Homo sapiens: one gene and its partner. The protein of the gene in region 1 interacts with the protein of each later gene in a biochemical or structural test. Each region holds a gene or a part of one and is shown on either strand. Other genes may lie near its edges. The genes, in order: NFE2 and ATF7.

Region 1 (3,520 bases):
AAGCAGGGCTCAGGGCTGGTAATGCTCCAGGCACTGGGAAAGGAAGGGAAAGATCCGGATGGAAGACACTGAGGAACGTTGAGGAGGAGGAGTGGAGGAGCAGTGGTGGGGAGGGAATGATCTGATTGGGAGTGTAGGCTCTCTCAGCAGCCACTTGACTCACATCTCTCTCTACCCCACCTCCTGCTCTCCCTCCCGTGCTCACCTTCTTCTCTTCTGACCTGCCTCTCTGATCCTGCCATCTTCTTCCCTCATTACCTCCGCCTGCCCTTGGCAACTGGGCCCGTTTACCCCAGGTAACAGAGCAGTAGTTCAGGGGCCTCAGGAAGGGGAGTCGGACTATGCCAGGGTCCTCTCCTCCTGCTACTTGGACAAAGGGGTGTCTGTTGGCTTGACAATGATGCCTTTGTCCCCAGCTGGGCTGGAGCAGGGTGGCTCCCTGATGTAGGTTGGGGGCCTTGTTTCTAGCATGTTCTCTACTTCTCGCTGCACCTGGGCAGGGACAGAGGGACTGAAGAGGAGAAGGCAGAGCTTGTGCTGGCTCCCCAAGGTGCTTCTTAGCCCCCAGCCACCCCCCTTTTACTACCCTGCTACCATGCTTAGCACCCTCAGGATCTGCCCTAGGCCCTCTTCCCACACAGCGGCTCCCTCTGCTGGGCATCTGGGGCATGGCCAGGATCTGAACTTGACCCTTTGACCCTAGATAACTGCAGCAGGAAAGGGTTCTGAGGGGTCATCTTGGATAAAAAGGCTTTGACTTCCTGAAGGAAATAAAGGAACATGAGCCATTTCTTTTTTTTTTTTTTTTGAGACGGTGTCTCGCTCTGGCGCCCAGGCTGGAGTGCAGTGGTGCAATCTTGGTTCACATCATTCTCCTGCCTCAGCCTCCCAAGTAGCTGGGACTACAGGCGCCTGCCACCACCCCAGCTAATTTTTTGTATTTTTAGTAGACAGGGGGTTTCACCGTGTTAGCCAGGACGTTCTTGATCTGATCCTGTGATCCGCCCGCCTTGGCCTCCCAAAGTGCTGGGATTACAGGCCTGAGCCACCATGCCTGGCCGAACATGAGCCATTTCAACCCAGTAAGAGCTTCTCCAAGGAGAGTTCATAATTGTTCCAATGTTAGGTAGTCTTTTCTGCAGTCCAACCTCAGTGACTTCCATTCTTGCTAAAGCTGCATTTTTCATTTTTTCTTTTTTTGAGAGGGAGTCTTGCTCTGTCGCCCAGGCTGGATAGTGGCACTATCTTGGCTCACTTCAACCTCCACCTCCGGGGTTCAAGCAGTTCTCCTGCCTCAGCCTCCCAAGTAGCTGGGATTACAGGCATTCACCACCATGCCCAGCTAATTTTTGTATTTTTAGCAGAGATGGGGTTTCACCATGTTGTCCAGGCTGGTCTCGAACTCCTGACCTCAGGTGATCTGCCGCCTTGGCCTCCCATAGTGTTGGGATTATAGGTGTGAGCCACCATTCCTGGCTTTAAGCTGCATTTTTCTTGCAACAACTGTATCATAACTTTGCAGGAAGCTTCCCGTGATTTGTGGCAACTTTGTTTCCTTGTTACTACCTCACTGCGACTTTCAGAAGAATCCAGCTTGTTCCTGAGAGAGTGTTGGTTTCTCTTCCTTAGTCTGTCTCCAAATCTCTTTGTGTCTTTCCTTGCAGGGTCTGAATGCTCCAAGTGAGCCATCATTTGAGCCCCAAGCCCCAGCTCCATACCTTGGACCTCCACCACCCACAACTTACTGCCCCTGCTCAATCCACCCAGATTCTGGCTTCCCACTTCCTCCACCACCTTATGAGCTCCCAGCATCCACATCCCATGTCCCAGATCCCCCATACTCCTATGGCAACATGGCCATACCAGTCTCCAAGCCACTGAGCCTCTCAGGCCTGCTCAGTGAGCCGCTCCAAGACCCCTTAGCCCTCCTGGACATTGGGCTGCCAGCAGGGCCACCTAAGCCCCAAGAAGACCCAGAATCCGACTCAGGATTATCCCTCAACTATAGCGATGCTGAATCTCTTGAGCTGGAGGGGACAGAGGCTGGTCGGCGGCGCAGCGAATATGTAGAGATGTACCCAGTGGAGTACCCCTACTCACTCATGCCCAACTCCTTGGCCCACTCCAACTATACCTTGCCAGCTGCTGAGACCCCCTTGGCCTTAGAGCCCTCCTCAGGCCCTGTGCGGGCTAAGCCCACTGCACGGGGGGAGGCAGGGAGTCGGGATGAACGTCGGGCCTTGGCCATGAAGATTCCTTTTCCTACGGACAAGATTGTCAACTTGCCGGTAGATGACTTTAATGAGCTATTGGCAAGGTACCCGCTGACAGAGAGCCAGCTAGCGCTAGTCCGGGACATCCGACGACGGGGCAAAAACAAGGTGGCAGCCCAGAACTGCCGCAAGAGGAAGCTGGAAACCATTGTGCAGCTGGAGCGGGAGCTGGAGCGGCTGACCAATGAACGGGAGCGGCTTCTCAGGGCCCGCGGGGAGGCAGACCGGACCCTGGAGGTCATGCGCCAACAGCTGACAGAGCTGTACCGTGACATTTTCCAGCACCTTCGGGATGAATCAGGCAACAGCTACTCTCCTGAAGAGTACGCGCTGCAACAGGCTGCCGATGGGACCATCTTCCTTGTGCCCCGGGGGACCAAGATGGAGGCCACAGACTGAGCTGGCCCAGAGGGGTGGAACTGCTGATGGGATTTCCTTCATTCCCTTCTGATAAAGGTACTCCCCAACCCTGAGTCCCAGAAGGAGCTGAGTTCTCTAGACCAGAAGAGGATGACAATGGCAACAAGTGTTTGGAAGTTCCAAGGTGTGTTCAAAGAGGCTTGCCTTGAGGGAGGGCTGGAATCTGTCTTCCCTGACTCGGCTCCTCAGGTCTTTAGCCTCCACCTTGTCTAAGCTTTGGTCTATAAAGTGCGCTACAGAAATGGCTTTTCACTGTGTCTTCCTTCTTGAGGGAGGGTGGAAGCTGAGATAATTATCTGTTTGAATCTTACCAAGTTCACTTCATTCTCCCCAGAGCTCTGTATGAGAGGTACCATAAAATTTGGGCTTGAGGCTGAGCATGGTGGCTCACACCTGTAATCCCAGCACTTCGGGAGGCCGAGATGGGCAGATCACAAGGTCAGGAGTTCGAGACCAACCTGGCCAAAATGGTGAAACCCCATTTCTACTAAAAGTACAAAAATTAGCTGGGTGTGGTGGTGCACGCCTGTAATCCCAGTTCCTCAGGAGGCTGAGGCAGGAGAATCACTGGAATCCGGGAGGTAGAGGTTGCAGTGAGCTGAGATTGCGCCACTGCACTCTAGCCTGGGTGACAGAGCGAGACTCCATCTACAAAAAAAAAAAAAAAAATCTGGGCTTGAGCAGTATGGGGATCTACCACCTTCACCTCCTTTTCAGAGTCAGAGGCCATGGATGATCTGAAGAACCCCACACTCCCTGGTGGTGCCCTATTTGTAGAGCTTGGAGAGCTGTCCAAACTGACTAGACACCCTGTGCAAAGGTTCCTG
Region 2 (3,817 bases), 770 kb from region 1:
GCCACAGAGTTGTGCTCAGGACATGTGCAATTCTGAAGTTAAAATTACTGTGAATAATTTGCCTATGGTCAATAAAAGCTAATAAATGCTAGTTTTCTTTTTACAAATTAAATTCATAGAACTATTGCTCTCAAACTTTGATATATTGTATTATTTTTCCACTGTATTATTTCAGAGATGTGTTCCCATAGAAAAGGAGTAACTATATCACCAATTTTAAACATCTCTACTTAAATTTTAATTTTAATATGTACTTCAGGGTGCATTCATTCATTAAGCAGATATTGATGGAATGTCTATTCTGTGCCAGTCACTGTTTTTCATGCTGGGGATATAATAGGGAACCAAATAAATTAGATTAAATCCCTGCCCTTGAGGAGCTTATATTTTAGTGGGTGAGACAGACAATAAACAAGATAAATAGGTAAAATATATGACATGTTAGATAACAGTAAATGTTAGAAGAAAAATAAAACAGGGAAGGGTAATATGAAATGTTAGCAGCAGGATAGAAATTTTAGATTAGGTGGCTTTTGAATAAAGACCTGAAGGAAGTGAGGGAGCTATATGCATTTATATGGAAGAAAAGTACTATAGGGAGGAGGATCAGCAACTGCAAAGATGCAAAGTCGCAAGGTACCTGGTACATCTAGGAACATCAAGGAGGCTCAGCTGGAGTTGGGGGTGGAGAGTAGTTGGAGACAAGTAGGGGACGTAATAGCAGCATTTTATGTAGGGTCTCATCAGTCATGGTGAGGATCTCAGCTTTTACTCCACACTGGGGGCCATTAGAGGGTTTTCAGCAGAAAAGTGATATAATTGATCTGACTAGGCTGGGCGCATGCCTGTAATCCCAGCACTTTGGGAGGCCAAGGCAGGCGTATCACCTGAGGTCGAGAGTTCGAGACCAGCCTGGCTAACATGGTGAAACTGCTTCTACTAAAAATACAAAAAATTAGCTGGGCGTGGTGGCATGCGCCTGTAATCCCAGCTACTTGGGAGCCTGAGGCAGGAGAATCACTTGAACCTGGGAAGCGGAGGTTGCAGTGAGCTGAGATGGTGCCATTGCGCTCCAGCCTGGGCAACAAGAGGGAAATTCCGTCTCAAAAAAAAAAAAAAAATTGATCTGACTTACATTTGAACAGGACATCAGGGGTACAAGGGCAGAAGCAGGCAGTCCACTTAGGGGCTGTTACGGTAATACAAGCAAGGGATGACGGTAGTGAAAGTGACGAGAGCAGGCTGAATCCAGGATATGTTTTGAAGTTAAAGTGATGAGAGCAGATGGGATGGTATATATGAGAAAAAGAATAAAAAATTACACCAAAGTTTCTGGCTTAAGCAACCACAAGAATGAAGTTGTCATTAATTGAGATAGGGTAAAGTGTAGGGGAAATGGTTTGGGAGGTATATCAGGAACTCAGTTTTGGACAAACTGAGTTTAAGGAGCCTATTAGGCTTACAGGTGGAGATGTCAAGCAGTCAGTTGGTTATATGGATTTGTAATTCAGAGGAAAGGCTGAAGATAAAACTCTGGGAGTCGGCAGCATATAGCTAGTTTTGGTTTTGTTTGGTTTGGGATTTTTTGGAGGCAGGGTCCACCTCTGTCTCCCAGGCTCTCAAGTGATCCTCCCCACTCAGCCTGAGTAACTGGGACCACAGGCGTGCACCACCATGCCCAGCTAATTTTTTTTTGTTATTTTAGAGATGATGTTTTGCCATATTGGCCAGGCTGGTCTCAGACTCCAGGACTTAAGGGATCTGCCCGCCTTGGCCTCCCAAAGTGCTGGAATTACATGTGTGAGTCACCACACCTGGCCATAGTTAGTTTTTAAAGCATTGAAACCAGATGAAGTTCCCAAGGGAGACAGCAGAGCTAGAAAAAGAGAAGTCCCAGGAATGAACCATGGGGTACTCCAACATTTACAGTTCATAGAAATGAGAAAGAACCCACAAGAGACTGAGAAGAAACAACCAGGAAGTGAGGAGGAAAACCAGCTACAGAGCCAAATGTGGTATTCTGTAAATCAAAATAAAAAAGTGTTTCAAGAAGTTCAGTGATTTTAAATCCTGTTGCTCGGTGGCTCACGCCTGTAATCCCAGCACTTTGGGAGGCTGAGGCGGGCGGATCACGAGGTCAGGAGATCGAGACCATCCTGGCTAACACGGTGAAACCCCATCTCTACTAAAAATAAAAAAAATCAGCCAGGCATGGTGGCGTGCATCTGTAGTCCCACCTAGTTGGGAAGCTGAGGCAGGAGAATCGCTTGAACCCAGGAGGCAGAGATTGCAGTGAGCCAAAATAGTGCCACTGCACTCCAGCCTGGGTGATAGAGCAAGACTCTGTCTAAAAAAATACCAAAAAAACAAATCCTGTTGATGGGCTAAAGAGGATAAGGACTGTTTATCAGTATATAATCTATATACGGTCAGTTTTCCACTTAGTCCCTGCAAGAACTCTGATACATAGTTAATCCATTAAACTACTTATTCTTTTTTTTTCTCCTGCCTCAGCCTCCCGAGTAGCTGGGACTACAGGCGGGCACCACCACGCCCAGCTCATTTTTGTATTTTTAGTAGAGACGGGGTTTCACCATGTTCCCCAGGCTAGTCTCCAATTCTTGGCTTCATGTGATCTGCCCACCTCTGTCTCCCAAAGTGCTAGGATTACAGGTGTGAGCCACCGCACCCGGCCTTACATATTCATTATAGCAAAGATGTATTTAGTTCCTGCTGTGTGGTATAGATATTATGTAAGTACCTGACACATGATGAATAAGACACTGTCACTACCTCTGAGAGAATCATAGGGTCATATAAACCTGTGGATGAGGTAAGGATAGATATCCCAGTTAAAAAGCCCCTAAACTGGGAGCTTCCTAAGGATAGGGTTCCCGTTTTCTTCTCTGTGTACCCATGCCTGGTACATGGATGATGCTCAGTAAAATGTTTGATGAATATATGCTGTGAAAACACAAAGAATAAAACAGTTAATGTACTGAGGGTAACAAAGATGGCTTCACAGAGGACGCAATATTTGAATCTTTTTTTTTTTTTTTTTGAGACGGAGTCTCGCTCTGTTGCCCAGGCTGGAGTGCAGTGGCACAATCTCGGCTCACTGCAAGCTCTGCCTCCCGGGTTCACACCATTCTCCTGCCTCAGTCTCCCAAGTAGCTGGGACAACAGGCGCCCGCCACCATGCCCAGCTAATTTTTTGGTTTTTTTTTTTTTTGAGTAGAGACGGGGTTTCACCATGTTAGCCAGGGTAGTCTCGATCTCCTGACCTCCTGATCCGCCCAGCTTGGCCTCTGAAAGTGCTGGGATTACAGGCGTGAGCCACTGCGCCCGGCCATATTTGAATCTTAAAAGAAGACTCAGGCATTCATCAGGATGTCAGAAATACAACTGACTATGGAACGTTTGCCTTTTTTCCACATATTTCTGTTTAAGCAGCCATAGAGGCTATCCGATGTTTAATAAAACTCCTTGACTTGCTGAGTGTGATGACTCATACCTGTAATCCCGGCAATTTGGGAGTCTGAAGCAGGAGGATGGCTTGAGGCCAGCAGTTGAAGGCTGCTGTGAGCTGTGATTGTGCCATGGCACCTCCAGCCTGGGTGACAGAGTGAGACCCTCTAAAAAAATTTTAAAAACATTTGACTAATGAGCAACATGGAGTTACCATTGTATGTAGCTCAGGTAGTTGTGTTTAGTAGTAAAATGTTAGTGTCACTTTAGGTGGAGTGGCATAACTTATAATGTTTTATAATCATTAATGCCTAGCTAATTTTTAGTCAGGAGGGTCTTAAGATTTCTT

What was found.
Region 2: the proteins of NFE2 (region 1) and ATF7 interact in a test that uses a peptide from one of them, tested with the Homo sapiens proteins (one large-scale study listed by IntAct).

What each region holds. Positions count from the first base shown.
Region 1 is NC_000012.12:54,291,526-54,295,045, reverse strand, and holds the end of NFE2 (transcription factor NF-E2 45 kDa subunit), read left to right. Parts: intron 1-192; exon of another isoform or gene 193-296; intron 297-1,664; coding exon 1,665-2,672; 3' UTR 2,673-2,935; downstream 2,936-3,520. UniProt on the Homo sapiens protein: Component of the NF-E2 complex essential for regulating erythroid and megakaryocytic maturation and differentiation. Binds to the hypersensitive site 2 (HS2) of the beta-globin control region (LCR).
Region 2 is NC_000012.12:53,518,298-53,522,114, reverse strand, and holds part of ATF7 (cyclic AMP-dependent transcription factor ATF-7), read left to right. Parts: intron 1-3,817. UniProt on the Homo sapiens protein: Stress-responsive chromatin regulator that plays a role in various biological processes including innate immunological memory, adipocyte differentiation or telomerase regulation.